Linked DNA regions of Homo sapiens. The main gene of each other region encodes a partner of the protein of the gene in region 4 in a complex. Each region holds a gene or a part of one and is shown on either strand. Other genes may lie near its edges.

Region 1 (7,931 bases), on a different chromosome or scaffold from region 4:
TAAGAGAAGAAGATTAGAACAATTCTTTATTCACCACCATTGCCCAACCCCGGTCTTTCCAAGTGGGGAAACTAACATTTATGAAACAACTAATACATACCTACACTTCACAAAAAAAACAGTCCTTCCATAAATGCCATCAAATATTATTGCCATTTTAAAGATGAGGACACTGAACACTAGAAAGGATATGCAACTTGAACAAATGCAAGTCAACTAAAAAAGTTAAGCTAATTTTCAAGTGCAGAACTATCTATCTGTATCTGATACAAATGGGAATATTCACTGAACCCTGGAGAGAACGAGCATTTGAAAAAAAAAAGGGTTCACTTAAGAGATATGATTTTATCATAACAGCATTGAAACTTTAATCTCTTATTTTTCCTATTTGACTTCTTAAAAAGGGTGGCATTGCCAAGAATTTTCTTTGATATGGTTTCACAATTGTATTCACCTTCTCTCCATTCTGAGACTTATCCATAAGAATACTCACTTTAATCCGACTTCTACTGCATGGTTGGAAAAGAAGATACGCAATAACTCTTTCAAACTCCTTTATCTCTTTTACTCTCTCATGCTTCTCATATGTAAGTAGCTGGCTCTGGCTTCTTCTCAAGATTCTCTCCTTGAGTCTTTGTTCTGCAAGTTCTCTCCCTCGAATCATGCGTTCCTGGTGATCCTTAGTCTGCATCTGTTCCCTCTCATTTACCTGCTTTCTTCTCTGTGCGTTCTGGATGCCATGCCCTTCTGGCATAATTTTTGGTAATTTTGTTTCATTGGGGGGTTGTAGTACTTGTCTAAATGGTTTGTTCTTAAATTCTCCAGCCTTTCCTGTTTGATGTATGTGCCTTTCTATGTGTTTCATCTCTCTCTCAGGTACCAAACAGTACTGTTTTAGTCCTTCTACGCTCTGGGTTGTTTTCTCCTCCATTTTTTTCTAGATTTCATTGCCTGTCTCTTCTTTCATCATTTCCACTATTATTTTATTATAATAAGACTCTGCTTTGGCAAGCCAGTAGTCAAGAGAAACAGCTTGCTCCCTACAGAGTATTTCACACTCCTCCTGATATTTCTGCATTATCAACTGTCTTGCTGCTGTTGTATGCACACCACCTAGATTCTGTCAAAGTGAAGTCAGAAATTTATAATGTGATCATCTTTTTCCTTTGAACACATTTAAACAGGAGCCAAGCCCACCCTCCCTAATGACACCAGGAAAAGCTACATGCTCTTTACTTTAGCTTAGTTGTTATTTTATTCCCATCACTCCCAGGTGAGCCTGGGAGCTCTGAAAGTATTAAGTACTCACCACCACAAATCAGTAACTAGGTTTAAAAATGTATGGTGTTGGAAGTTTCCAAAAATGATACTTTGTTTTGCAACTGTGGATATAGCTGGGTAACATTTGCCAGTGTAGACATACTACCTGAATGTGTCACTTGGGCAGAAGGATTTTAAACCTAAGATTCCTTCTCTGTGTAGTTCCAAACTGTATGATGTGAAGATAATTTACTTACCAAGATCTTTTTTTCCAGTGGAGACTGCTGACCTGCAGCAATCCTAGGATCTTTAGATGATGTACCCCAGGCCAATCTGGAAGATAAAAAAGGCAAGGTAGATTCAAATGTAGGAGGTGTCAGAACAAATCTGCTAATAGGGAGGACTACAGCAGGGCCATTTCCCCCATGGGAAACCACTGCATTCCTATGGTAGAAAATAATGAATGCTCTTTTAATAAGAGGATCTTTCCTTTCATATGAACAAGCATACTTTTCCTGTGGACTCAGCGTGAACCACTGTGAATCTCGTATTGGGGATTGTGAGTGGGAAGAGACATGCTCCTTGGTGAGGTGTTGTCCAAGTACATCTATGTCAGTCTGCTCAGTCCTCAAGCCTCCTTTGTGTTCTGAGACGATTGTAGGTTCTAGTTTTCTAGACGATTCTAGGTTTCTAGTTTTCTCTTCCTGCAGTTTCTTGATCCGGGCCCTCTCTGACTCTATCAGCACATACAGCATTTCTGCCCTCTAATCTTTTGTTCTGAAATTCTGTTATTTGACTGCTCAGCCCTCTGCTTGCCTGACTAACAATGCCAATCATCCTTCACTCTAAATCCATTATGAGACTATTCCCTGTTGAACCCCTCAGGATGGCAATTTGTGGTTACTCTGGGTTTATTTATAGAGGAGGCTGATGGCAACACAAATGAAAACTATCATCTTTTATGTGTCATCCCTGGTCTAGCCTGAGTTTACTGTGATGTCGTATTTAAGCCACTGAGGATGCCTGGCATTTCCTCTGTATGTCTTTTATACCATTTAGAGTTCAAAGGATGGTCTTTACAGTCTGACAGAGCTAGATCTGAAATCTAATTCTACCACTTCCTAGGTGTGTGACTCAGGGCAAGTAACTTCTGTCAGCTTTCTCATCTATAAAATGGAGATGTAAGACAAAAATCTGCCTCTCAGGGTTATAAAGAACAAATATGAATTAGATGTAAAGAGCTTGGTAAGTTCTCAATAAATTCTATCTATCTGTCCTTCACAGGTCAAGCTCCTGATTATAAAGTCTTTCCAGTCTACTCTGTCAGTGATCTTCCCTTCCTCTAAATACTTGACATATTTTAATTCTACAACTCATTTGAAAATTAATCGTGGTTTACACTGTGATATCTGTATTCACATATCACTTTTAACATTTTGATGCTGAAATTTAGGCTCATAAGGAATGAAAACTGTAATTTATATCTACAAATATGATGCCTCTATATTGTTGGAAAGGATCTGATATCAAATATTTGGTCTCACTGACCTCTTAGGAACATTCTTATTTGTCTACGTAAGCTTATTTTGAGATTGTAAACGTATGATCATCTTACTTTTACTTCTCTGTACATGGCTTCTAGCACAATACTTAACATTAGAGTCTGTGATCCCAAGTTCTCAAAATTAATGATTTGCTGATTGCTGATGATCCTTGACACATAATATCTGAGCATCTTTTTTAAATATCTGCCATAACATTGTATCTATTTTTATTAAGCCATTTCCCAGTCTTCCTTGAAGTTTACAGATATGTTTCCTTTATATGCATGTTCTGGGCTCTCACATTTTGTACCTACTAGCACAGTTTTATTATATTCTAATTATTCATTCATGTTCCTTGAGGTCAGAGAACACAGATTTCAACTTTGCAGGCTCAGCCTCAGCTCAAAACCTGGCATAGTTGCTCAATAAATCTTTACTGATTAGACTGTGAGCTTTTGTTGGGAAAAGGATATGCCTTTTAATGCTTTGTTCCTTTACTGCAATTCACAGGGGATGTTGGCTGTTTTTCAAATTAAAAACAGAAAACTGAGGAGGGTAGAATTTCAAGTTCCATTTTCAAAGGAGACACACAGATAAGTGAGAATAAAAACTGTCTACGACAATCAGCTCAACAACACGTCTCCCTTTGTAAGACAGAATAACAAGCAATTTCACAGTTAAATGATAGGGCTTGTCACTCTTCAGCAGTTTGCTGAGTTTTAACCCTTTCACTATGGCGTTCTCTCCATTATTACAGAGAAAGGCAGATGGGAGCCTCTCCCAGCGAAAAGACTACAGCTTGTGTCCTTCATAGGAGAAAACAGTGATGGCTCCAGAACTTTTATATGAATGAACTTAGCACAGCTATCAGAGTGGATGGTGGTGGGAGGGCTAGCAGGAAACTAGTAAACAACTACAAGCTGCCCCTTCAGGGAAAGTTTCTACTTGGAATATAAGTTACAGATTAATGAAAATAGAAAGATTTCCCAAAGATACTTATTCTCATGTTTTATAAAAGATCAGGGAAATGTCAGCTGTCCACTTAACGGATGACATAATGAATTAAGAGTTCGATAGGCGGCAGGCACAACTAAAAGCCAAACTCGACCTAAGTCTTATGAAATCCTACTTAATGAGCTTTCTTGACTACTGCTAGCCTCACTTATCTGGCAGGAGTCGAAGGAGAGGAAGCCCCAAGCTCCTCTGTTCCACCACCTCCAAAGTCCTGAACCCCTTCTCAAGTGTACCACTTCATCCCTGCTTCCTTTCGTCCCGTGGGACTAAGCATTCCTCGGGCCTTCACTCTCACCACTTGCTGTCCCTCAAAAAGCCGACTCACCCCTTTCCAAGCGCAGTGAACCGTCCGCAAAGCACGAGGCCGGTTGCGAGCTGCAGAAAGCCCACGCTCGCCAGCGGGACCCAAGGAACGCTAGAACTATACGTCCCAGAACACTTAGCTTTGTTTTTAACTACGGTGCAGCCGCAAAAGGGAAATACCGGCTCAGGACCCAGGGGAGTTGTAGTTCTCTAATCCAAAGAAATCATTATTTGGCAACGTACGGTTTTCAGGGGGATATACCCCGCGACTGCGTTCCTGTAGGATGTGAGACAAAGAGAATAAATATCCCAGGATTGGGTGCTGGTGGGAAAATTTGCTGGAAGCGCAGCATTGGTTACCAATTTTGTGCTCAACCTCTCAGTACCAGGGTGAAAGTGGAGACGCAATCTCCCTTGGAAGACGTTAGTCTCCATCTCTAACGCTCCCGAGACACGGTTCGCAATTAATTATGACGTCACAGCCAATCGTCAACGCGAAAGCCTGACGCTCTAGCCGGCTCTATCTCGCTGCCCCGCCGCGGGCGCAGAGCTGGCGCTCTAGCCCACGGAGTTGGTTAACTCCTCTCACCGGCCCCTGGAAAGGGTTCCAAGTCCTTTAGTACCCGACGCTGTCTGGGAATTCCGGGCGTTTCGGCTCCTTGGTCGCAGAGGCAGGAGGCGTGCGTGGCAGGAGGGTTCGGGTTATATACTCCTAGGTCCTGGGACAGAATAGTTACGACCTCTGGGACAGGAACTCTTCTCTCTTTTGTTAATAAACTTCCAACTCCCTCCTCAGACCCGACCGCATGTCTGTCATGGACCTCGCCAATACTTGCTCCAGCTTTCAGTCGGACCTGGATTTCTGTTCAGATTGCGGCTCGGTCCTGCCTCTGCCCGGGGCTCAGGATACGGTCACCTGTATTCGCTGTGGCTTCAACATCAACGTTCGGGGTGAGAGGCTTGTACGCAGGGGTCCTGGCGGAGGGCGCAGGGTCGGAAGCTTGGGGAACTCAAGATCGGTTGGGTTGAGGAGGGGATCCTAGAGCAGGACATCAGGCGGTTGTACATTTGGTCTAGCGATGAAAACTGAGGGAAAGGATGTAGGGCCTCCTGGCCTAACCAGCCAGGGGAAAGGGGAGGTTTCCGGTGTCAGCTCTCTCTGGTTGTCTCCATAACCAGTTCTTACTTGCCTGTGCAGACTTTGAGGGGAAGGTTGTGAAGACTTCGGTTGTGTTCCACCAACTGGGGACAGCCATGCCTATGTCGGTGGAGGAAGGGCCTGAGTGCCAGGGACCTGTGGTAAGCTAATGAGATCAAGAACTGGCTCCATAAGGTGGGTAGGAAAGAAATGGAGGAGTGATTGCAAAGCTCTGGAGAGTTTTGTGCCCAATTCCAAGAGGGAAAAGAGATGTAAACCATCGACGTTTGAGAGGCGTGATCGCCTGATTCCTGTGGGAAGTAAGGGGATATGACCAGGCCTCCCTAACCCACCAGTTTCTTCCCAGGTTGACAGGCGCTGCCCTCGATGTGGTCATGAAGGAATGGCATACCACACCAGACAGATGCGTTCAGCCGATGAAGGGCAAACTGTCTTCTACACCTGTACCAACTGCAAGTGAGTATTCTTTCCCCTCCCTCTGCTCAGTCTGTTTGCTAACTAAACAAATCCAGTGATTTATTTTTTTGTACGAAATGGCCGTTTCCCTTGGTCCCATCCCTTATTTCTGTGCAGTTCTGGTAATAGGGAGATTTGTAGTTGTTTTTTATTTTTTTAAGTTACACTTTTTTAAACCTTTTTATAACCAGTGAAATAAACCTTTTAGGATTTTTTTTTTTTTTTTTTTTTTTTTTTGACAGGGTGTCGCTCTGTCACCTAGCCTGGAGTGCAGCGAGGCAATCTTGGCTCACTGCAACCTCCGCCTCCTGGGCTCAGGTAATCCTCCCACCTCAGCCTCCAAAGTAGCTGGGACCACAGACACATGCCACCACGCCTGGCTTTTTTTTTTTTTTTTTTTTTTTTTTTTTGTATTTTTAGTAGAGATGGGGTTTCTCTATGTTTCCCAGGCTGGTCTTGAACTTCTGAGCTCAAGTGATCCACCCACCTCAGCATCCCAAAGTGCTGGGATTACAGGCATGAGCCACCCCGCCTGACCTACTTTTAGGATATTTAAAAGGAAATGAAGAAAAAAAAAACAACATAAGAAGCAGGTATTGTTTAGTGGTCAGCATCTTATACTGCAGTCTTCAACCGCAGTCAAGGTAGCTTTCTTTGGAGAGAATTAGTCACACATGACTTAGAGAACATGGGCTTTCTGAATGCTTTTAAGACCTCATTTTTGTCTTTGGTGTTCTGCAGTCACTATAGTATATCAAAATACGATTTTCTTTTATTCTGTTTGGGATTTGTTGGACTTTCTGAAACTGAGAGTGGACTTTTTTTTCATCAACCTTGGAAAATTATCAGCCATCATCTCTTTTAATATTCTCTTTCCCCCATGTTCTCAGTCCTCACATTCTGGACCTCGAATTAGTTACTAGAAAGAGGTTTCTCTCTTCTGTCCTCCATTTCTCTCACCTTCTTTTCATATTTTCAATTGCTGTTCTCTTTATGCCACCTTCTGAGTAATTTCTTCAGGTCCCTCTTCCATGTCACTAATTCTGTCTTCAGTTTATTTCAAGTATTATTATTTTTTACTATTGTTATTATTTTGAGTTCTATTTAATTACTTTTCAAATCTCCTTAATTTTTAAATAATTATCAGTTCTTTAATCATATTTTAAATTGTTCCTTTTATTATTCTTTAAATATATATTTAAAATATTAAATATGGTTATTATATTCTATGTCTTATAATTCTGATATCTGCGGATTTTGTGTGTCTGATGCTGCTGTCTTTTGTTTCTGCTGTCTCTCTCATAGTGCTTTTTTTCTTTGTTTTGTGATTTTTGACTATAAATTCGAGTTTTTTAGAACTTGAACTGTAGGAATTCTTTGAGGCCTTGGGCGAGTGCTGTATTCTCAGCATTTGTGTTTCTTTTCTAGGTGCCTTGAAGCACTATCAAGCTGGAATTACTTTAAATAAATTCTTGGCTTCATGTTTTTTGGAGCAGACAGATAGTATGAATTTGAGCTGCAAATCCATGTAAGGGCTAGCTTACAGTTAGAAATTCTCAGGAGAGAGTTTTCTCTCTTTCTACCTACTGAGACAGTCAAATTCCCCTTCTATAGAGTTGAATTTTTTCTTTTCTTGTTCACTTTTACAAGAAAGGGCAGCCTTTTGCAGTTCCCAAATTTATGCACGGGATCTCCTATCAGACCTTATACATTTTGTCCCTCATTTCCTATGCTTCCAGTGACTGTCAAAACAGTATAAAGGGCACCATAGTGTCACTGTCACGTTTCATAGGGACATTAGTTTTAACTTCCCTGTCTGGATTTCTGGTTTTACAGAACTTTTAACCAGTGTGCAGATTGCCTTTACTTTCTTGCCATCTCATCAAAGGATTAAAAATATTCATAGTCAGATATATCTTTTAAAAGTATTTTTTTCCTATCACTGGTTGTCATTTTACCAAAAAAAAAAAAATTTTTTTTAAATAAAAAGAAGATTTTTTTTCCCAGCGTGTGGCTTGCCTATTTTCTTAACCCTCTTTAAATGAGCAGAAGTTTTAAGTTTTTATAAGGTTCAGCTTATCCTTTTTTTTTTCTTTTACAGCTAGTGCTTTCTGTGTCCTAAGAAATCTTTGCTTTGAGGTTATAACTCATTGGATATATTTTTAATCCCAGAATTTTTAGTTGTCTTGGAATTA
Region 2 (7,892 bases), on a different chromosome or scaffold from region 4:
GTTATGGTAAATGAGTTAGCGATTCTTTAAAATATATTTTTTTGCCATTAATTTTCTTAAATAATAAAATCTCAAAGGATAAAGAAGTTCCCTGAACAGTCTAATCCCAATCCCTGGGCACACTCACTGTTAAACATTCCTTGTGAATACCTAATCTAAATGGAAGTTTCTTATGCATTTACAGTAAATGCCTACACAAGTGGCAATCATGCCACAGATCAAGAAAGCATTATGATGCCCTTGGGGTGATATGCCCCAAGAATGGGAAAGGTGATCTAAAATAAAAATACTCTTAAGTGTTCAGATACCTGAAATGAAAGCTTCTTCCAAAATTGACTTTACCTTGCCTGCCTTTTCTCATTACATAAAACTACAAAAGGAGACACATCACAAACCATGTTTTCCAGTTACATGTTATCTATATATTTCTCTCTTGTCTGTCTGCATATGTTTCCTCATTTTTAAAAATTAAGGTATAATTTACATTCAGTAAAATTTACTCTTTTCAGTGTAGTTCTGCTAGCACTGACAAACACATACAGTTGCATGTGTGTACTCACCACAATTACTACGTAGAACAGTTCCATCACTCCAAAATATCTCCCACATCCCTTGACAGTCAACCCTTGATCTCAGGCAACTACTGGTCTGTTTTTCTGTCCCCATAGTTTAGCCTTTTCCAGAATGTCATATAAATGGAATCATAGCATAAGTAACCTTTTGAGTCTTTCACATAGCATAATGCATTTAAGATTCACTCATATTGCTGGATGCATAAGAAGTCTGTACTGCTAAATGGTATTCCACTGTACGGATACAACAGTTTAGCTAGTCACCAGTTGAAGAACATGTGGTTTGTTGCCAGTTTTTGGCAATTATGAATGAAACCATTAGAAACATTCCTATGCAGATTTTTGTGTGAGCTTGTTTTCATTTCATTAGGGTAAATATCTAGGAGTGAAAAACACTGGATAACATAATAAATGTATGTTTAACTTTGAGAAACTGACAACTTTTCAAAATAGCGGTACCATTTTGAATTCCCACACTGGGAATGATCAGTTTTTGTTTTTGTTTTGTTTTGAACCATTCTAATTGGTATATAATGATATGTCATTGTCGTTTTAATTTGCATTTCCCTATTAATGATGTTAAACATCTTTTCACATGCCATCTTGATATCATCTTTGGTAAAACGTCTTTTCAAATATTTTGCCCATTTAAAAAAATGGAGTTTTTTTCTTATTGCCTAAAAATTCTTTATATACTCTAGATACAAATCTTTAAACGGATATGTGATTTGCATTTAATTTCTCCTCGTCTGTAGCTTCTTATTCGTTTAAGTTCTTTTGTGGAGCAGAGGTTCTTACTTCTGATGAAGTCCAATTTACCAATTTTTTTTCTTTTATAGATCATGCTTTTGGTGTCACATCTAAGAAATTTCTGCCTAACCCAAAAGGGAAGGCAAAAATTAGCAGTGAACTCAAATTAAAACCATAATGAGATATCACTATACACCAATTAGGGCATAGAGATTTTCTGCACAGGCTTAATTTTTCTCCATGTTCTTCTCAACATCTTCTATAACAGCTAGAAGTCATCAAAGTAGCCTCTTACGCTGTTTTAGGTTTTCAACTATTGTTTATTAGTGTTTTTCATAATCTCATGCATAGGAACCCATGCTCAGATATAGAAAATGTTTTAATAATTTTCATCTGACAACATGGATGATAATATTCAGAGAAACAAAGAGAAAAATTAGACATGTATGTCAACATGGGGGTGGGGAAGGGTGAAACCGACAGGTGGCCACCACGCACTGAGCTCTGGGCCTGAGCAGCAGTTGGTAGTGCTTCGCATATTACTCAGCAGTGACTCACACTGCACGTGTGTGTCAGCCCTCAGCACATACTCTAGGAAGAAGGACCTTGGAAACGGGTCCCCTCGACAGCCTCCACCTTGGGGCCCGGTACCTCCCTGGAAAGTGCCATTTTATAACCAGACTTACTTTCTTTGGCCAATAAATTATTCCCTAAAGTAGCTAAAAGCCGGTAAGTCTTAAATGTGCAACTGACATAACACTGCAATAATGAACTGGGCCTCCAAGAGCTATGTTTAAAGTGTAGGTTGGTGTCTGGCTTGGGGTAAGGAAAGCCCTGTCACCACTGAGACCCCAGGGAGGAATGGCCCCTAGGCACCCAGTCCTTAGGATCCGTCAGGACTAACCCCAGCTAGCACCACAGAAAGGAAGGCTGATTCTCCAAAATGACCTAAGACACATAACAAAATCTTGTTCCTGCTGCTATTCTTGTGCCCACTGAGAGCCACTGACTGAAGAGTCACTCCTTCTCTGATGAGGAGGCAGGGAGCCTGGTTTCCTGGGAATCCATGGGCTGTTGGGATAAATTCACCTCCACCCCTCTTCTTCATTGTGCATCAATCCTGCCTACTGAGAGGGAACCTGTCACACTTCCCTGCTATGGAAAGGATCATCTCCACAGTGCCTTTTCTACCCCAAGAGTCTGTTTTTCTATTTAAAAGCCCTCTGAAATTTAGAGGAAAAATAATCTAGTTCTACTCTCATACTGGAAAATTGGGTCTTAATTACAGTATATAAGTGGGCATTATTATGTCTATTTTACTGATGAAGAAATAGGAGCTGAACAAATTCTCATTTCAACTAATATGGGGAACCTTGATTTTTCTCAAAGGATATAAAATTACTGAGTCGAATTAGTATTACTGTAAATTTACATTAAATACAGAGATGTTACCTTTTTCTTCAAAGCCTCAAAGAGACTCAGACTCAGCAAAAGGTTAAGTAACTGGCCCATGGGCACACAGCTAGCTTGTAATGCAGACAGGATTCAAACCTAGCGCTGCTTATGCTCTCTTCTACCCTACCACAATGAGCCCACATCAGAATGACAGTTCAAAGAAAGGCAGTGACACTGGCTGAATCAAATGGACTTGCTATCTGCTTTCCTTTGTTTTAATTTTCACAGGGATCTTTATTTTGGGGGAACATTCCAATTACATATGTTGCAAGGTAACATTTGTAATCTTTTTAATATTGGGAAGCATAGATGAGAAATGACTAAATTTGAGAAAGGGGAAGAGGGAGGAGTATTAGAAATATAGGCAAGTCTCATGCAAATTATAAAAAGTTAAATTATAAAAAGTATACTGTGGTATCCTGCATTGGATCATGGAACAGAAAGAGGACATTAATAAAAACACTGGTGAAATCCACATCAAATCTAAACTTTGATTAATAGTAATGTAAAAAAGAGAAAAGTTAATTAGAGTGTAGGGCTAATATTTCCAGAAAAAAAAGTCACAATGTAGATAAGTGTATACTGATGAAGCTTCAGCTTTCAAATGTAAAGTAACAGACACAGAAGTAAGGCAGGTGCATCTAAACCAGGAAGGAGAACATACTTGGCCCTTGCTTCTTCCCATTTTTGTTTTTTCTCATCAAAAGCTTTCTTCATAATTTGGTACCACTTTCTGAAATCAAACCATGGCTTATCTGAAAGAAATAAAATCCAAGATTATTAACCAAATAAACCACACTATAATAATATACATTGTTCATCTGAGTTTTCATTAATTGACTGCACTGGGCAGTTGGTGTGAGTGTGTGATCAAGATGTAGACATTAGAGAGACAACAGAACTGAATGCAGTAAAGTATAAAAACTCACTCCTCACTCTTTCACTCCATACAGGGATTATTCTCCATTATTCTCTGGCGAAGGCAGTCTCTTTCCATGCCTAACTAAAAATCTTTTCAACTGGTCAATATGATAATTGTTTAATCCAATATGACCTTGTAGACCATACAGCCACAGAAGAGAGGAAACTACCGAAAGAACTGTAAGAACAGAGGAAAACTATAGTAATCAATAGAACTCACGGTTCTTGGACCTGGAGTAAATCACAACTTTTCTAAACCTCAATCTCCCCATCAATAATGCTGGGGGCAGGGGATGGTGATTAGCAGACAGAGCAGAGAGAAATGACAGTGATCTTTGCCCTGCTGACAGCATGGATTTATTTTGAGGCTTACAGGGAGACAGGTCAAAGCGCTCTGTTTATTCTACATGTCTACGTAGTAAATTATCATCTTTTAGCATTAGAGGGGATGTTAGAAGACAGCTAGTTCAACCTTTCACTCTACATAGAAGCCAACATGAGCAATGTACAGAAAGTAGTATTTTATTTTGCACATATTCTGGAAAGAACACACAAACTGATTGCTTCCAATAAATTCAAGCCTCTAAAACCAATGAACATAAATCCTAATGAGAACAGAACATTAAGAAACTGGAATTGAATTTAATAATCCACATATTCACCACACTTCACTGAGTTGCTCTTAGGCTAGTCACTATGTTAGGCACTAAAGATACATTAAAAGAAAAAAAAAAAAAGATATGATCCCTCCCTCCAGAAGCTCACACTTCACTTGTCTATCTGTCTATCACTTATAAAGTACTTATTAGATGCCAGATACTCTTCTAAGCACTTTACAAATATTGGCAATCTAATAGGGACAGACGTACTTAGGCCATTAGTTAGACCTCAAGGCACTAAACATCTAGCAAAAGTCTGAACAAGAGTGACTGCGGCAGGAGTTATTAGTTCTGATTTGGGAAGAGGTGAAGCATTGTGAAGTGGATAGGTGTGAAGACCAGACAGAAGAGTGGTGTTTATGCTGCATCTTCAAGAATAAAGAGGCATTTGCCAGGGACTGAACAGGAGTTGGGGTAAGAAGGAAAGAGCATTTCAGATAGAGGGACCAACAAGAGCAAAGGCTGAAAGCATCAGAATCGACAGGATGGTCACAAAGCTGCCTGTAAATTCATGATCTAGCATGGCTGGTGAGTAGAAGTTGGGAATACAAAGCAGCCTGGTCTTACATATAATACGGACTCACTGATATTTTTTAGTACCCTAGAGATACAAGTAGGTAATTATATGAAAAAACAATACTGGTACAATATACAATTTGTATACATGTGTTTATGTGTATATGTGTATTTTTCAAAGTTGTTTGCCTACATTTATTCCATCTTTTAATCTATCATCTATAACCACTTTGAATTTGAATGATAAAAAATTAAAATACCTTTTTTGTTCTTTTCATTATGCTTTTCAGCAAGATTAGACAAAGACCTGGAGATAACAATAAACAAATCAATTTATTTAGAAGTCATGTATTTGGAAAGATAAATTCTGAATTCTTCTGAGAGAAAAGTGTAGAACAGTATTTGAAATTGATACCATGTTTTAATGGAGAAGCAATCACTGAAACAGAGGAGGAGACACTATAAATACTGTCACTCTTTGTTGGCATCTGGGAGGGGTGACATATTAAGATTCCTTTACTTTCTAAAATAATCTTTGAGAACACATATTGCCAGGAGCCTAAAGGGATATAGATAGAGATTTATGAAGATACTTTAAAACTAGGAAATCAGTGGAGCAATGAGGAACATTGCTACCTAAAGAATAACAGGTATAAAACATGATCAAACAACTGACAACCAGCTGAGTCAAAGTACTGTGTAAGAAATAATTGTGACTACTAGTCAATGTTCTGTAACAATTGAGAGTCTCCATTTTTTGAGATAACATATAATTAGGTAAATACAGTACAAATTTTTTCTTTAGCTCTTTTTTTAAAGTGTCTTCATGACATTTAAAGCTTTCTTAAAAAACTAAGATCAGCACCATAAAATGTTACTTGTCATAAAATTGACGTACACTTACCACTCGAAACTGTCATCCAATAGAAAGAGCAGTTTCAATACCACCACAATGATAGCTACAGCTTGTACATCGTACTTAACAGTTTTTGCCATTTTAGCTATAGGATCAAATGTCAGAAAATCCACTTCTCCCATTCCAGTCATTTTTACCACGTGGCAAGTTAAGCTATGCATTTCATCTGAAGAACAAAACAGTAAAATGTAAATTATTTGCCAACTAGACCATCCCCAATGTATATATCCATAAAATAACCTTTATCTTAAAACACGACACTATGCAAGAACTCAGAGACCCACATTTTGTGAATAAAACATCAAAACATGGCATCCATATAGAAAAATGAATGGTAGAATCTTAAAACGGCGTATCATTCCCTATTCCGACTTCCTAAAACATCTACTATTTCTAGGACACATCCTGGCATCTGGCAGCCACATACCAGTTGTTTCATCCACATCTCTTGTCTGTGTTTCTATAGCAGTGTTTGCTCACCTAAAACTAACTCCCTTATGAGACCAAAAGCTTCTCTAGCAATGTATGTGCACTGGCTGGCATCCTGGCTAGCACACTGGAAGCCCTCAACAACTGTTTAACTAGATATATTGCTTTCCTAAAGAAATTATATGTTCAGCATAGACTACACCTATTACTCAAGACTGAATAATGTGGGACTTGGAACCAGAAAACCTAGGACCTATATTTAAGCTTTCCAATCACTAGCTTTGTGACTCTTGGATCAGAGTCACTTAGCCTCAGTTTCTTCACTTGTAAAATGGGTTATAATGAGAATAAATTGAGGTTATGTTCAAGTGAATAGACTTTGAAAACTAAACAAAAAATTTCTGTACTTCCCAATCTAAGTATGTAAGCTGTGACCACACAATTTCAAGTATGACAGCCATTTTTTATAAGAGATAATGAGCTTGCATGGAACTGAACTGAATCTTCTACATGCATTCAGTCACCATGTCCTGTTAATTCCATTCTCTCAATGTGGCATATAGTACCATGGTTGAGAATAGACTATGGAACCAAACTGCCTGGACTAGAGTCCCTGCTCCATCACTTACTAGCTCTGTGACCGTGGACATGTTATACAACCTTTCTGTGCCTCAGTTTTTAAACAATCTATCTAAAATAGGAATAAGAATAGTACCTGCTTCATAGCTGTTGTGAAGACTAAATTAATGAATATACCTAAGGCACTTGGATCAGTGCTGACTGCTTTCCAATCCATCCCCTTTCTTCCCGTCACTGTTGCTCCTTAGGCCACCCTTATAACTGCTCTCCCTTTCTCTAGTCTTACTCTCCTGTGGCCCAATCATCGTATTCCCCTGCTCTCATGAACTCACTAAAGCTTTTAGCTCCCAGCCTAATCTCCATAGTTCCCCCAAACAAGCCATATTCTCACTTGCCTCTCTGCTTTGCACAGCTACTTTTGCCCCTTTGCCTAGAAAGCCAGTTTCTTTCCCCCATTCCTCATCTCAGGCTCTGCCTGGCTGAAGCTCACTCATCTTAGAGAACTTGGTTATACCAGTGACCTCCTCTAAGAACAGACATGATACCACAGCCTCCTGTGACTGGCCCTCTTCTGAGTGCTAAAGCAGATGTCCTGGCATGTACCCTTCTATTGCACAGTTAAGGGTTTATCTTTCTGTTTCCCTCTTAAACTTGAGGGTGACTCAATCTTGTTTTATTTGTCTTCCTAACTGCTACAACCCACACATAATTCGTACTAATTACACGTTTATGATAAAGAATAAAACACAAAATTAATTTCTTTCTTGAAACATTTAAGTAAAAAAGTTTTGCTGATTAAAAAATGCTTTGTTAACATAGAAACAGAACACATATAACAATGATAATTCAAAATATCGCATCAAAGTATTTTTCTGTCTACCAGATTCTGGTAGCTTGGCTCAGGTTTTCACTTGGCTTTTATTCTTCCAACAAACATTTATTGAGCAACTAGTGTGTTCTGGGTACTTAAGACACAGACACAGTCCTCTTCCTCAAGTCCTTTTCCTAATGAGAATGCAGTATGCTACAGGCTATGACAAACATGGGATGGTGCTTTCAGGAAATGCAAACAGTCCAACAAGGCTTTAGTGTTGA
Region 3 (7,789 bases), on a different chromosome or scaffold from region 4:
TTCCAGCCTAGGTGACAAAGTGAGATCCTGTCTCAAAAAAAAAAACAGAATGAAGTTAAAAAAAGAGAGATTAGACAATTTGCTTTCTCAAGACGCAGCTGCACTATTTAGAAGGAAATACAGTGAACTGTCATTATTCATAATAGTTATGTTCTATACAGTTGCCATAAACACTGAATTAGCCAATACTGAACCACTGCTCCTAGGGTAAATACATGGTTAGCTTCCTGCGAGCCTCTGGTCACATTTCATCAACTGATCAACACACAATCTTGTATTATGTGTGTTTCTGTTTAAGGACAGCTTATTTAATACATATTATTGAGTCCGTAACTCATGCCTGAACAAAGCCTATGATTTCATCCACTGATCAATACACAACCTTGCATTATGTGGGTTTCTGTTTAAGGACAGCTTATCTAATATATATTATTGAGTCCCTAACGCATGCCTGAACAAAGCCTATGTTAAATGCATGTATTAATATTTTCCCCTAAAGGCACAGCACAGCCTTCTTGTGCTTAGGAACTTTATACAGAACTTTAATACTTTAATACTTTGCTTGGGGGACATTTTAAACAGCAAAATCACCAACAAAAAGCACAAAACACGGCACTAAATAGATAGTGAAGACAACCTCTGTTTATAGTTTAAGAACTTAAAACAAGAAGGCCGAGCATCACCTTGTTAGATCTCAGCTGGGAAAATGGACACTGAGCAACTCAACTTTTTTGCTGCTTCTGGGCATGGTGCTTTTGGAGTAGAAGTAAATTTTAGTGAGTAGGTGAATTTGCAAATATGGAATCCCCAAGTAATAAAAATCAATTGTATTTTGAAAAGACAGACACATAAATTCTGACTCACAGAAAGGAGGAATTCACTCCAAAGAAACTTGGCAAAATTATGTTTTGTAAGTAAAAAATATGATAACTATTTTTTCCCTTGGCTTTATAAGTATTAGTTATTTATGTTACTGTGTTTTACAGAACTTTTTCAAATACTATATTATTATAGTCCTAGCTAAGTTGTGGCATCATTTTCTATGCAGGGCCAAATTTTCTTCATCTACTTCAACCAAAACAATTATCACAAGGGACTGAATGCACAAGCAGACATGAGAATCCAGCTGTCTTTTCATTAAGCCAGACATTAAAAAGATTTTTAATAATGCAATTCATCTAACTTCTTTTTTGCTTTGGAAAATATTTTTCTTAAAAATGTTAACATATAATTGGTTTATTTATTTATGTATTTATTTTTTTGGGAGAGTCTCACTCTGTCACCCAGGCTGGAATGCAGTGGTGCAATCTTGGCTCACTGCAACCTCCGCCTCCCAGGTTCAAGCGATTCTCGTGCCTCAGCCTCCTGAGTAGCTGGGATTACAGACATGTGCCACCATGCCCGGCTAATTTTTGTATTTTTTAGTAGAGATGGGGTTTCACCAGGTTGGCCAGGCTGGTCTGGAACTCCTGACCTCAAGTGATCCACCCGCCTTGACCTCCCAAAGTGCAGGGATTACAGTCAAGAGCCACCACACCCAGCCGACTGGCTTATTTTTAAATTAGTGCTTTTCTAAAATTTCTCAATTGGATTTTTTTTTTTTAAAGACAGGTCTCACTCTGTTACCGAGGATGGAGTGCAGCGGCACAATCATAGCTCATTGCAGCCTCAAATTCCTGGGTTCAACTTATCCTCCCACCTCAGCCTCCCGAGTAGCTGGGACCAGCTACTTGGGTGCGCACCACCATGCCCCACTAATTTTTAAATTTTTGTGGAGATGGGGTTTCACTATGTTATCCAAGCTGGTCTTGAAATCCTGGGCTCAAGTCATCCTTCTGCCTTGGCCTCCCAAAGTCCTGGATTACAGGTGTGAGCCACTGCACCCAGCCCGATTAACTTTTAATTAGGAATTTTTTCTCACAGACATGATACTGTAACAATCCAGGCACAATACAAATAACCCCCACCCCTCTAGTCTTTCTAAACAATAAATCTTAATGGCTCCCATATTATTTGCCGAATAGAGTTCAAGAATCAGACTGGCAATCAAAGCTCTCCACATTATCTGTATCCCTATCTCCCACAACACAAATCTTACCCAACAAAACCACAGGTAGGGTCCCCGAAGCATGTGACTCTGCTCTACTCTTCCCCTGGACGAAATGCACGTTTCTCACTTCTTGAACTCATCTAATCCTGCCCTTTCTCAAACTCCTGGATTAGTTGCGCCGCCCATAGGCTCCCGCAGTAGCCCACACAATCCCTTGGCAGAGCAGTTCTCAAGAACATTGGCATGCACTGCTTTCATTATCTTCACCCCTTCAACCCCCAAACACGACAGGGAGCACTTAAATGCATGAACTGTCTCGTACACGGGACTGCCTCCTCCACATCCTCTGAGCCTAGTGCCTGGAGACACTGGGGATGCTTACTAAACGAAGCTTTCCCCCACCATACTCACTTGAATTCTGCTACCATTACTCTACGCTAATAATGCAATTACACTTTTCGATTCAATCTTGCTTTCATGACTCATTTATACCTTCCTCGGCACCTGCTTAATTCATAACAAATGACGAGTAGTTTCTCTCTTTAAAGCTCTAAGAGAAGGAAACTGAAGGATAACCTTGAACATTACACTGTACCTACAAATACGTTCGGGATCTTTCGAGGTACGTTTTGGAGAGGTAAGTCTTCAAGTGATATAAAGCCGTGTGCATTGTGAAGCACATCCCCAGATAAGCCACTTCCTCACTCTCACAGCACCCCGAAACTGTCCAAACTACGGTTCACAATCACTTTTCACTCCAGAATCACGAATACATCTCTTAAGACGCCTCGACTCCAAGTCTCACGAAGGCCAGTACCGCGTCCTGTTTAACATGTTGTGCTCTCCCGCTTACCCACCAAGCCTGTCAGGATCAAGGAGCACATGCATCTGGGGTCATACTGTGACCTCCCAGCCACCTCCCTGGGATTGGCCTCGCCGCGGCAAGGGCGCCGGCGGACGCCGCGCTCACCTGCACCGCGAGGCCGAGACCCTCGTGCACAGCGTAGTTGAAGGACTCCACGTGCGCCCGCGTCAGCTCCTGCAACGCTGCCTTTTGCTGTTCCCGCGGGATTCCATAAGAGGGGTCAGTCAAGTGCTTTAGGCTAGGCCCGCTGGGCAGGTTCCGCCACCGGCTGCCAGGATCCATGTGGCCACCTGCACACCGGACGCCAGTCTCTCGGTACACGCCGGACGCCAGTCTCTCGGTACACGCCGGAAGTAGTGGCCGCAGTCCCGTTTCCGCAGCCTGCTGGGAAATGTAGTTCCCTCTCGTTCCACCCGCCCTAGGCCCTGCGGTTTCGGTTTCTCGGGGTCAACGTAGAACCAAAAACGTCGAGTGAACGGGCCGATTAAGGCCGTGTCCAGCCAGAGCGTGGCGGGCCCTCCCTTTCTCCCATATTCCGCCCCACTCATCTCCCCGCTCGCGAAAGATGCCGCAGGTGGAAACCCGCTCCCCGCCCAGTTGAGCATGTGACCTCTTTGGCTCTCATTGGCTCAGTCAATTAGGATCGGAGGAGAGCGGTCTTCTCAGGCTCTCTTCTGTTTCCCTTCACCTGTTCCCAGTCCCACGCTGATGCCGACCCTGGGGAGTCATCCGGCCAAAGTCGTTGCTTCAACGAAAAAGCGGATGCCGGGCCCCGGGCTGACTCTCTACCCAACTCCTAACTCGCGAGGCTCACCCCTGGGAAGCCAAGGAGTGGTCGGGCCCCGCTAACCTCGTCGCATCTTCCGGACTGGAGGCCTGGGGGAGGCCTGGGGAAGGAGGTGGGAGAGGAGTCGGGCGGTCCCGGATGGAGGGGATGGGGCAGCGGGGCGTCCAACTGGATTTACAGCCTGAATTTCTTTTGCGTTCCTGTGAGCCCCTTACCTCCCCAGAATACTGATTAATCAGGGAATGCCTGCTGGTTTTTCAACTTTATTGTGTTTGTGTTTAACAGCTATATTGCGTTATAACTGGCATACAATAAACCACACATTTAAAGTGTACGCGTTAAGTTTTGACCTATGTATACAACCATGCAGCCATCACCACAATTAAAACAATGAATTAAACCACCACTACCCAGTATCCTCCTGCCCCTGATAGTCCCTCCTTACTGTCAACTTCCCCTTTCCTAGTTCAGCTGGTACTTTTCATTCCTATATCACTTTTTATAAAAAATTCGAGCCGGGAGTCTGTTGCACAGGCTGGTCTTGAACTTCCGGCCTCTAGTGATCCTCTCGCCTTGCCTCCCTAAATGCTGGGATTACAGGCATGAGCCACCGCGCGCGCCCGGCCAACTGAGTAGTTGTAGTTCTTTATATAGCCTATACTAGTCCTTGTCAGATCCATGATTTGCAAATATTTTTCTCCCATTCTGTGGGTTTTTACTTTCTTGCTGGTGTCCTTTGAAGCAAAACGTTTTAATTTTGAAGTGTAGTTTTTTTCTTTTGTTGCCTGTCTTTTTATATCATATCTAAGACATCATTGTGTAATCCAAGGTCATGAGGATTTAAAAAAAAATTTATGGGTACATAATTAGCATATTTATGAGGTATATGAGATGTTTTCATATAGGCATACGATGTAATCATCACAGGAGGGTAGATGGGGTTTCCATCACCTCAAGCATTCATCATTTCTGTCATGAACATTCCAATTGTACTTCCTCAGTTATTTTTGAAGGTACAACAAATTATTGCTGACTGCAGTCACCCTGTTGTGCTATCAAATACTAGATATTTTTCAATCATGGGGATTTTCACCTATATTTTCTACTAAGAGTTTTGTAGTTTCAACTCTTACATTTAAGTCTTTGACTCATTCTGAGCTAATTTTTGTATATGGTGTGAGAAAGGCATATCACTTTATTCCTTTGCATGTGGATATCCAGTTGTCCTAACACCATTTGTTAAAAAGACTATTCTTTCCCTCATCAAATTGTCTTGGCCTCCTTGTCGAAAATCAGTTCACTATAGATGCAAGGGTTTATTTTTGACTCTCAGTTCTATTCTCTTGATCTGTATGTCTATCTACATTTATCTGTATATCTGTCTACAAACTACACAGATTTGATTAATACAGCTTTGTAATAAATTTTGAAATCAGGAAGTGCACATCCTCCAACTTTGTTCTTCTTTCTCCAGATTTATTTGATCCTTTGTATTTCAATATGGATTTTAGCGTCAGCTTAGCTTGTCAATTTCTTTCTCTTTTTTTTTTTTTTTTGTTTTTTGTTTTTTTGAGACAGAGTTTTGCTCTTGTTGCTGAGGATGGAGTGCAGTGGCATGATCTTGGCTCACTGCAACCTCTACCTCCTGCCTCAGCCTCCCAAATAGCTGAGATTACAGGCATGCACCACCATGCCTGGCTAATTTTGTATTTTTAATAGAGACAGGGTTTTACCATGTTGGCCAAGCTGGTCTTGAATTCCTGACCTCAAGTAATCCATCTGCCTTGGCCGCCCAAAGTGCTGGGATTACAGGTGTGAGCCACCACACCCGGCCCAGCTTGTCAATTTCTGCAAAGAAGGCTGAGATTCTTGATCAGGATTGTGTTCAATTGGTAGATCAATTTGGGGCCTATTTTCATCCTAACAATAATTATCTCCCAATCCATAAACATGGGATGTCTTTCCATTTATTTAGGTGTTCTTTAATTTCTTTCAGAGATGTTTTGTAGTATTTGGTGTAGAAATGAACTTTTGTTAAATTTATTCCTAAGTATTTCATTCTTTTTGGTGTTGATATAAATGGAATTGTTTTCTTAACTTCAAATTGTTTGTAATATGTAGAAATACCATTGAGTTTTGTATATTGATCTTGTGTCTGGCAATCTTGCTAAACTCTTTATTAGTTCTAACAGCGTAAGTGGATTTCTTAGGACTTTTTCTATATGGTATCTTGTCGTCTGCAAAGAGAGATCATCATACTTCTCCCTTTCCAATCTGAATGCGCAGTCTTCTTTCCTTCCTTTTGTCGAATTGCTCTGTCTAGAACATTTAATACAATGTTGAAGTGACAAGAATAAATATACTTGTTTTGTGCCTGATATTGGGAAGAAAGCTCCCAACTGGAGCTTTCACATCACCATTAATATGATGTAGGCTGTGGGTTTTTCCAAAGATGCTCTTTATCATGTTGAGGAAGTAATTTATTTCTAGTTTGTTGAAAGGTTTTTTCCAAGAAAGAGTGTTGTGTATTGCCAAATGCTTTTTCAGTGTATATTGAAATGATCATGTGCTTTTTGTCCTCTTTTTTCTATTAAAGTGGTATATTATATTAAGTAAATTTTGTATGTTAAAAAAACCTTGCATTCTTTCTTTTCCCCTTCTCAACGTTTATTTTAGAATCAGGGGGGTACATGTGCGAATTTGTTACAAAGGTATATTGGGTGATGCTGAGGTCTGGGGTATGGTTGAACCTGTCACCCAGGTAGCGAGCACAGTATCCAATAGGTAGTTTTCAATCTTTGCTCCCCTCCTTCTCTCCTGGCTCTAGTAGTCCCCAGTGTCTGCTGTTCCCATCTTTTTTTTTTTTTTTTTTTTTTTTAGACAGAGTCTCTGTCACCCAGGCTGGAGTGCAGTGGCGCAATCTCGGCTCACTGCAACCTCCGCCTTCCAGGTTCAAGTGATTCCCCTGCTTCAGCCTCCTGAGTAGCTGGGATTACAGGCGCCTGCTACCACGCCCGGCTAATTTTTTGTATTTTTAGTGGAGACGGGGTTTCACCATATTAGCCAGGATGGTCTTGATCTCCGGACCTCATGATCCGCCCGCCTTGGCCTCCCAAAGTGCTGGGATGACAGGCGTGAGCCACCGCGACTGGCCTCTTCCCAACTTTATGTCCATGTGTACCCAATGTTTAGCTCCCACTTTTTAATTTTTTTGAGACAGGACTTGCTCTGTCACCTAGGACAGAGAGCAGTTGTGCGATCTCTGCTCACTGCAACCTCCTCTTCTCAGGTTCAAGCGATTCTTGTGCCTCAGCCATCAGAGTAGCTGGGATTACAGGCATGCACCACCATGCCTGGCTAATTCTTGTATTTTTTATAGAGACCAGATTTAATCATGTTGCCCAGGCTGGACTCAAACTCCTGGCCTCATTTGATCTGCCCACCTTGGCCTCCTAAAAGTGCTGAGATTATAGGAGTGAGCCACCGTGCTCAGCCTAGCTTCCACTTACAAGAGAACATGAGTTATTCCAAACTTTGTAATCTTAGGATAAGTCCCACTTAGTCATAATGTATAATCCTTTTTCTATGTTGCTGGATTTGGTTTACTAGTATTTTGTTGAAGATTTTTTCCGTTTGTATTCCCAAGAGATTATTGGTCTGCTATTTGCTTTTCTTGTGACATCTTTGTCTGGTTTTGGTATCAGGGTATTAAGAGTGACCTCATAAAGTTGAGGACACTCTTCTCAATTGAGGAGTATTTTCTTCTCTTCTATTTTTTAGGAGACTCTATGAAATATTGGTGTTAATTCCTTACCATCTGGCTTACAATCTGGTCCTGGGCTTTTCCCTGTGGGAAGTTTTAAAAGAATTATTATTAGTCCAACCTCTTTACTTGTATATTTCTTCATTAATACAGAAATTAACAAAATTTGTTACTGATTTCTGATTTTATTCCAACATGGTCAGAGAACATATGTAGTATAATTTCAATTCTTTTAAATTTACTGAGACTTGTTTTATGGCCTAGCATGTGATCTACCCCAGAGAATGTTCCATGTGCACTTGAGAAGGATGTGTATTTTGCTGC
Region 4 (7,892 bases):
CAGAATTCTCTTATCAGATATATCAGATTCATGACTTGGAAATATTTTCACCTTTTCTGTGTGTTTTCACTATCTTTTTATTTTATTTTACTATTATTATTTTTTGAGACGGAGTCTCACTCTGTCACCGAGGCAGGAGTGCAAGTGGCGCAATCTCAGCTCACTGCAACCTCTGGCTCCCAGGTTCAAGTGATTCTCCTGCCTCAGCCTCCCGAGTAGGTGGGATTAGAGGTGCCTGCCACCACGCCCAGCTAATTTTTGTGTTTTTAGTAGAAATGGGGTTTCACCATGTTGGCCAGGCTGGTCTCGAACTCCTGACCTCAAGTGATCTGCCCACCTCAGCCTCCCAAAGTGTTGGAATTACAGATGTGAGCCACTGTGCCTGGCCTTCTTTTCACTATCTTGATGGTGTCCTTTGAAGCATAAAAGTGTTTCATTTGATGAGGTTTAATTTAACTGTTTCTTCTTTTGTTGCTTGTGGTTTTGGTATCACATCTAAGAAGCTGTTGCCTACTGCAAGGTCGCAAAGATTTTCACTTCTTCTGAGAGTTTTAAAGTTTTAGCTCTTATATTTTGGCCTTTGAGTTAATTTTTATGAAGTAGGTAGGGGCCCAACTTTATTATTTTGTATGTGGATATCCAGTTGTAGCATTTATTGAAAAGTCTATTATTTTCCCACTGAATTGTCTTGGCACCCTTACTGAAAATTAGTTAGCAGCCGGGAGCAGTGGCCATGCCTGTAATCCTAGCACTTTGGGAGGCCAAGACAGGTAGATCGCATGAGCCCTCAGGAGTTCGAAACCAACCTGGGCAACATGGTGAAACTGCATCTCTACAAAAAATACAAAAATTAGCTGAGTGTGGTAGCGTGTGCCTGTAGTCCTGGCTACTTGAGTGGCTGAGGTGAGAGGTTCACTTGAGCCCAGGAGGTAGAGTGAGGCTTCAGTAAGCTGAAATCATGCCACTGCAGTCCAGCCTGGGAGACAAAGTAAGGCCCTGTCTTACACACACACAAAAGAAAATTAGTTACCTATAAATGTAGAGGTTTACTTCTGGACTCTAAATCTTCCATTGATCTACATGTGTCTCTCTTTCTGCCCATATCACACAGTCTTGATTACTACAGCTTTGTAGTACTTTTTTTTTTTTTTTTTTTGAGACTGAGTCTTGCTGTGTTGCCCATGCTGGAGTATAGTGGCAGGATCTCAGCTCACTGCAATCTGTGTCTTCCAGGTTCAAGCGATTCCTGTGCCTCAGCCTCCTGAGTAGCTGGGACTACAGGCGTGTGCCACCACGCCCAGCTAATTTTTTCGTACTTTTAGTAGAGACGGGGTTTCACCTTGTTGGTCAGGCTGGTCTCGAACTCCTGACCTCAGGTGATCCACCCACATCGGCCTCCCAAAGTGCTGGGATTATAGGTGTGAGCCACCATGCCTGGCCATAGTCATAGAGTACATTATCCAACTTTGTCCTTTTTAAAGATTCTTTGTTCTTCTTTGGTCCCTTGCATTTTCGTATGAATTATAGAATCAGCCTGTCAACTTATGCAAAAAGGCCGAGTTTTTGATAGGAATTACATGTATCTGTAGATCAATTTGACAATAGTAAGTCTTTCAACTGAACACAGAGTGTCTTTTCATTCATTTAGGTCTTAAAAAATTTTTTTTCAACAGTATCACTTTTCAGAGTAAAATTTTGCATCTCTTTTGTAAAATTTCTACCCATTTTGTTACTTTTGATGCTTTTGCAAATGGCATTGTTTTCCTAATTTTATCTTCTGCTTGTTCATTGCAAGTGTATAGACATACAGTTGATTATTGTGTATTGATCTTGTACTCTGCAACCTTTGTGAACTCATTTATTAGTTCAGTAAATTTTTAGTGGGTTCTTAGGATTTTTCTGTGTACAAGACCATGTCATCTGCAAATAGAGATAGTTTTACTTCTTCCTTTCCAATCTTGGATATCTTTTTGTTATGTTCTTGCTTAATTGTCCTGGCTGGAACCACCAATATAATGAACAAAAGTAGTGAGAAAAGACATTTTTGTCTTATTACTGATTTTAGGGGGAAAGCATGCAGTCTTTTATCATTCAGTTCAATGTTAGCTATGAGTTTTTCATAGATGCCCTTTATCAGATTGAGGAAGTTCCTTCTGTTCCTACATTGTTGAGTCTTTTTATCATGAAGGGTTATTGTGTTTTTTCAGATGCTTTTTCTGTGTCTATTGTGATGATCATGAGGTTTTGGTCCTGTATTCTTTTGATTTGGTTTAGATCAATAGATCTCTATTTTATTATTTGCATTAATTGATTTTCAGATGTTAAGCCAACCTTGCATTCCTAGTATAGATCCGACTTGGACATGATGTATAATGCTTTTTATATGTTGTTGGACTCAGTTTGCTAGTATTTTTGTTAAAGATTTTTGCAGCTATATTCTTAAGAGATACTGATCTGTAGTTTTATTGTGTTGTCTTTGGTTTTGGTATCATGGTAATACTGGCTTAGAATAAGTTAGGAAGTATTCTTTTCTGTCCTTTTTTTGGGAGAATTTGTGAAGAATTAGTATTTTCCTTTAAATATTTGTTGGAATTTACTGTTGTAGCTATCAGCAACTGAGTTTTTCTCGCAGATAGTTTTTTAAATTACTAATTTAACAGAGGTCCTCAATGTTTAATGAATGTTAAAAGATCTTGTATCTTTGGGCAGATAAGGATGATTATGCTTACAATGCAGTAGCCCAGGATGTGTTCAACCACAGCTGGAAGACATCTGCAAATATTTCTGCATTGATTAAAATTCCTGGAGTTTGGGACCCTTTTGTGAAGAGTTATGTAGAAGTAAGTAGAATTTTCATTAAATTTATTGGTTTTATTTTGTCAAAAGCCTATACAAAGACTGCATGCCTAATCTTTATTGATCAGAAAGAAACTAATGGAAAAAATTATTTAAAAGAAAGCAAAAATACGGTGTCTCTTTTTTGGTCTGAATTTGTTTATTTTCACCACTGTATAACCCGTCGTGGCCAAGTATCTATAAAATAAATAGCAGTATAGTTGTAAATGTTAATTCAATCTTATTCTTGTTGAGCTTAAAAGAAATGCAGTAAGATACCTTATGATTTGGTGGGATATAGAAGGAAAGAGGACAAAAATCTGAAAAAATGGGTCATACTATATGAGGTGAAGAATGATGGCTTTTTGGAAGTTCATAAGAATGTCCTGTCATCCCAGAGTCATTGTAAAAGGACTGAGGGCCTTGGTGCTAGGCACTAGGAATAAATCTTCAAAATAATTTGCTTTGTGAAAGTTAATGAGTGGCAAGTTGATAATTGTGTTGTCAGAAGATAATCTCCAAAATCATAATCTGGAGATTCCTGTGTAAGGATGGGAACAGGATGAAAGGAATTACAATTCTCATGCACTCCTTTTGTGGCTGCAGTGATGTAGGGCACTGAGGTTAGCTGCATCACATTTTCGAGCATTAGTGTTCCCTGCTTTGAGGACTCTTATTTTTTATAGGAAGAGAATTTATGTTGAGGTTGCTGCATTGTTTATTAGTAGTAACAAAATACAGGGAAAAAATGGGAACCCTGTCAGTTTTGTGATTTTTAAAAAATACCCATCAGTAAACTTATGCTGTGTATTATTTTTCGTATAGCTGTCTTACAGAATTCAGCTAAGATATTATGATTTATTTTATATAGATGCTGGAATTCTATGGGGATCGAGATGGAGCCCAAGAGGTACTCACCAATTATGCATATGATGAAAAGTTTCCATCAAATCCAAATGCCCATATCTACTTATACAACTTTCTAAAGAGACAGAAGGCACCAAGATCAAAATTGATAAGTGTGCTTAAGGTATAGAATTTTTATCTCGATGTTTGACCAGGGTTGGGAATCTACATTAAAACATTCTTAGGCCATTGCTTTCTAACTTTTATAGCATCTACAGAAAATTTCAATAATGTACAGTACACTGAGATAAACAGAGAAAGTTGGCTCCAGCTGCCATCTCCATGTATGTATCATCCACACTATCCCCTGCTGCCCGGATGAGACTGAGGAGAGAGGATCAGAAGTCTTGTGCAACCCTGGTTGGAATACTCTGCACTGATATTTTTTGAAAATCAACTTTATTGAAATTTAGTTTTCAGAGAGTAAACACACTTATTTTAAGTATGTGCTTGGATGCGTTACATTCATGAACCACCATGGTAATCATGATATAGAACATTTCTGTCGCCCCCAGAATGCCTTTCATTTCCCTTTGCAGCCTGTCTGTCCCCACAACCATGGCCCCAGACAATCACTGATCTGCTTATTGTCACTATAGATTAATTTTTATCTCTTCTAGAATTTCATGTAAATGGACTCTTATGTAGTCATTTTAATCTGGCTTCTCTTGCTCAGCGTAACATATTTGAGATTCACCCATGTTATTGTGTATATTAGTAATTTCCTTATTACTGCTGAATAGTATTTCATTTTTATACATTCACTTCTTGATGGACATTTGGGTAATTTTTACTTTTTGGCTATTGTGAATGATGCTGCTGAGAACATTCATGTACAAGATTCTGTATACACATATATTTTCATGTTTCTTGGGTAGCTACCTGAGAGAGGAGTTGCTGCCTAAGAGTAGTAAGGAAAGTATATGCTTAACTTCCTAAGAAACTGCCCAGCTGTTTTTTGAAGTGACTGTACCATCGACATTCACACAGCAATATGAAAATTCAGTTTCTCCACATCTGTGCCAACACTTGGTATTGGAGGTCTTTTGAATAATAGCCTCTTGTGGGTGTCCCATGTGGCATTAAATTGTATTTCCCTAATGACTAGTGATGTTGAGCATCTTTTAGTATGTCTATTGGCCATCCTGTATCTTCTTTTGTCATGTGTCCAACTACTTAGTCTATTTTTGGGGGGATCAATTGTCTTCTTACTGATTTGGAAATTTTTATATAATCTGGATATAAGTCCTTTGTGAAGAATATTAATTATGAATATTTTCTCTCTGACTGTGCCTTGCCTTTTGGTTTCCTTAATAGTATCTTTCAAAGAGTAGAAACTTCTAGTTTTGATGTTCAGTTTGTACATTTTTTTTTCTTTTATGGTTAGTGCTTTTTGTCTAAGAAATATTTGCCTATCTCAAGATAATGAAGAGTTCTTTTTTTTTTTTTTTTCTAGATGTGTTGTATAGTTTTATGTTTAGGTCATGGTAGATTTTTAGCTATTTTTTTGTGGGTAGTGTGTGGCAAAGGTCAAGGTTCATTTTTTCCCATGTGGTTGTTCCAGCATTATATTGAAGACTCTCCTTTCTCCATTTAGTACATTTGGAACTTTGTTGAAAACCAGTAGGCTGTATATGAAGTCTGTTGTGTTCTAGTGATGTATATTTCCACCTCAATAGATGAAAATTCAGTTTCTCCACATCCTTGCCAATACTTCATATTGTAGGTCTTCTAAATGTGAGTTATTGCCATTCTAGTGGGTGTGTAGTAATATCTCATGTGGCCTTAATATGGTTACTGTAGCTTTGTAGCAAGTCTTGGAATCATATCATGAAAGTCATACAAATTTGTTCTTTTTCAAAATTGCTTTTGGCTTTTCTAGGTTCTTTAACTTTCCATGTATATTGTATAATCAACTTACCTGTTGCTACAAAAAGGTCTTGCTGAGATTTTGAATCTATAGATCAGTTTGAGAGAATTGACATCTCAACTGTATTGAGGTTTCCAAAGTGTAAACATGGCATGTCTCTCCATTTATTTAGGTTTTTAATTTCTCTCTGAACTGTTTTGTAGTTTTTAGTGTATGTATTTTGTTAAATTTGTCCCTAAGTGTTTCATGGGGTTGTTGTATATAATATTGCTTAACATTTTAAATTGTGGGAAAATATATACAAAAATAAATGTTACCATTTTGATCATTTTTAAAGCATATAATTTAGTGGCATTAAGTACATTCATTCACAGTTTTGTGCAACCACCATCACTGTCTATTTCCAGAATGTTTTCGTTATCCGAAGTAGAAACTATTCATTAAACAATAACTCCTCATTGCCTGCTCCTCCCAGCCCCTGAAAACCTCTGTGCTAATTTCCATCTTCGTGAATTTGATTATTCTAGGTACCTCATATAAGTGGAATCATATAACATTTGTCCTTTTGTGTCTTGCTAATTTCACTTAGCATAATGTTTTCAAGGTTCATCCATGTTGTAGCATATATCAGAACGGCCATTTTTATTTAAGGCTGAATAATATTCCATTTTATGTACCTACAACATTTTGCTTATCCATTTCTTGGTAGACATTTGGGTTGTGTTTGTTGTTTGGCTATTATAAGTAATGCTGCTCTAAAGATTAGTGTACAGGTATTTGTTGGAGTTCGCTGCTTTCACTTCTTTTGGGTGTATACTCAGGAGTGAAATTGCTGGATTATATGGTAATTCTTTTAACTTTTTGAGGAATTGTCAAACTGTTTTCTACAGCAACTACACTATTTTACATTCCTACCAACAATTCCACATCCTGGCTAACAGCTTCTATTCTCCATCCCCTTTTTTGATCATTGATATCCTAGTGCAGGGATCCCCAACCCCTGGGTCATGGACCGGTATCTGTTTGTGACCTGTTAGGAACCAGGCCACACAGCAGAAAGTGAGCATCAGGCAAGTGAGCATTACCTGAGGTCTGCCTCCTGTCAGATCAGCGGTGGCATTAGATTCTCATAGGAGCCCGGACCGTATTGTGAACTGCACATGGGAGGGATCTAGGTTGTGTGCTCCTTATGAGAATTTAATGCCTAATGATCTGTAACTGTCTCCCATCACCCCCAGATGGGATCATCCAGTTGCAGGAAAACAAGGGCTCTCACTGATTCTACTTATGGTGAGTTGTATAATTATTTCATTATATATTATAATGTAATAATATAAAGTGCACAATAAATGTAAAGTGCATAAATAATGCAATCCCGAAACCATCCTTGACCCTCACACTGGTCTGTGGAAAAATTGTCTTCCACGAAACCAGGACCTGGTGCCAAAAAAGTTGGGGACCGCTATCCTAGTGGGTGTGAAGTGGTATCTGTGTCTCAGTGTGGTTTTGGTTTGCATTTCCCTAATGTCTAGTGATGTGTATCTTTTCATGTGCTTATTGGCCATTTGTTTATCATCTTTGGCAAATGTCTATTCAAGTCCTCTGCCCTTTTATGAATTGGGTTGTTTGGTTTTTGTTGTTAAATTATAGGAATTCTTTGTATATTTTGTGTTCAGTTTTTAATCATGGCATTTTAGAGGTGAAAGACAAAGGTCCTTTCAACCTAAAGAAATGATAGAGAAAAGTTCTTATCTCTGTTTTCTTTTAAAAGGCCAATTATCTTTATACTTTCGTGATCAAAATTGGCATTATCAAACCTTCAGATGTGGAAACTAAGTTTTATAAATTTTTCAACAGGCTTTGTTTTACTAAACAATCCTTTGCTGTTGTTGTTGTTTGAAACAGGGTCTCACTCTGTTGCCCAAGCTGGAGTGCAATGGCATGATCACGTGAGGCTCCCTGTAGCCTCCACCTCCCTGGCTCAGGTGATCCTGCCACCTCAGCCTCCCGAGTAGCTGGGACTACAGGCACACGCCACCATGGCTGGCTAATTTTTTGTATTTTTGGAGAAACAGGGTTTTGCTATGTTGCCCAGGCTGGACTAAACAATACCTTTAAAGTTGCTATTTTTATTTTACTCTCTTAAGATAGCTTTTGGCTCATTTATATTACAAAATATTAAGGATTGTGTTTAAAACAAAAGCAAGACTGTGCTTTCAGGTTATCAATCACTAATGGTGTTTTTGAAAAGATTTTTTAAAATGCTACAGAAAATAACTGT

The links.
Region 1: TAF1A (region 4) and POLR1H share a complex: the UniProt entries of both Homo sapiens proteins name them as parts of the pol I pre-initiation complex.
Region 2: TAF1A (region 4) and TAF1B share a complex: the UniProt entries of both Homo sapiens proteins name them as parts of the transcription factor SL1/TIF-IB complex.
Region 3: TAF1A (region 4) and POLR1B share a complex: the UniProt entries of both Homo sapiens proteins name them as parts of the pol I pre-initiation complex.

What each region holds. Positions count from the first base shown.
Region 1 is NC_000006.12:30,056,598-30,064,528, forward strand, and holds the start of POLR1H (DNA-directed RNA polymerase I subunit RPA12), read left to right. Parts: upstream 1-4,667; 5' UTR 4,668-4,927; coding exon 4,928-5,072; intron 5,073-5,319; coding exon 5,320-5,420; intron 5,421-5,626; coding exon 5,627-5,736; intron 5,737-7,931. UniProt on the Homo sapiens protein: Core component of RNA polymerase I (Pol I), a DNA-dependent RNA polymerase which synthesizes ribosomal RNA precursors using the four ribonucleoside triphosphates as substrates. Can mediate Pol I proofreading of the nascent RNA transcript.
Region 2 is NC_000002.12:9,908,799-9,916,690, reverse strand, and holds part of TAF1B (TATA box-binding protein-associated factor RNA polymerase I subunit B), read right to left. Parts: intron 5,956-7,892; coding exon 5,778-5,955; intron 5,181-5,777; coding exon 5,134-5,180; intron 3,533-5,133; coding exon 3,442-3,532; intron 1-3,441. UniProt on the Homo sapiens protein: Component of RNA polymerase I core factor complex that acts as a GTF2B/TFIIB-like factor and plays a key role in multiple steps during transcription initiation such as pre-initiation complex (PIC) assembly and postpolymerase recruitment events in polymerase I (Pol I) transcription.
Region 3 is NC_000002.12:112,537,903-112,545,691, reverse strand, and holds the start of POLR1B (DNA-directed RNA polymerase I subunit RPA2), read right to left. Parts: upstream 3,198-7,789; coding exon 3,021-3,197; intron 28-3,020; exon of another isoform or gene 1-27. UniProt on the Homo sapiens protein: Catalytic core component of RNA polymerase I (Pol I), a DNA-dependent RNA polymerase which synthesizes ribosomal RNA precursors using the four ribonucleoside triphosphates as substrates.
Region 4 is NC_000001.11:222,565,483-222,573,374, reverse strand, and holds part of TAF1A (TATA box-binding protein-associated factor RNA polymerase I subunit A), read left to right. Parts: intron 1-2,709; coding exon 2,710-2,840; intron 2,841-3,706; coding exon 3,707-3,865; intron 3,866-3,950; coding exon of another isoform or gene 3,951-3,992; exon of another isoform or gene 3,993-5,950; intron 5,951-6,849; coding exon of another isoform or gene 6,850-6,901; intron 6,902-7,892. UniProt on the Homo sapiens protein: Component of the transcription factor SL1/TIF-IB complex, which is involved in the assembly of the PIC (pre-initiation complex) during RNA polymerase I-dependent transcription.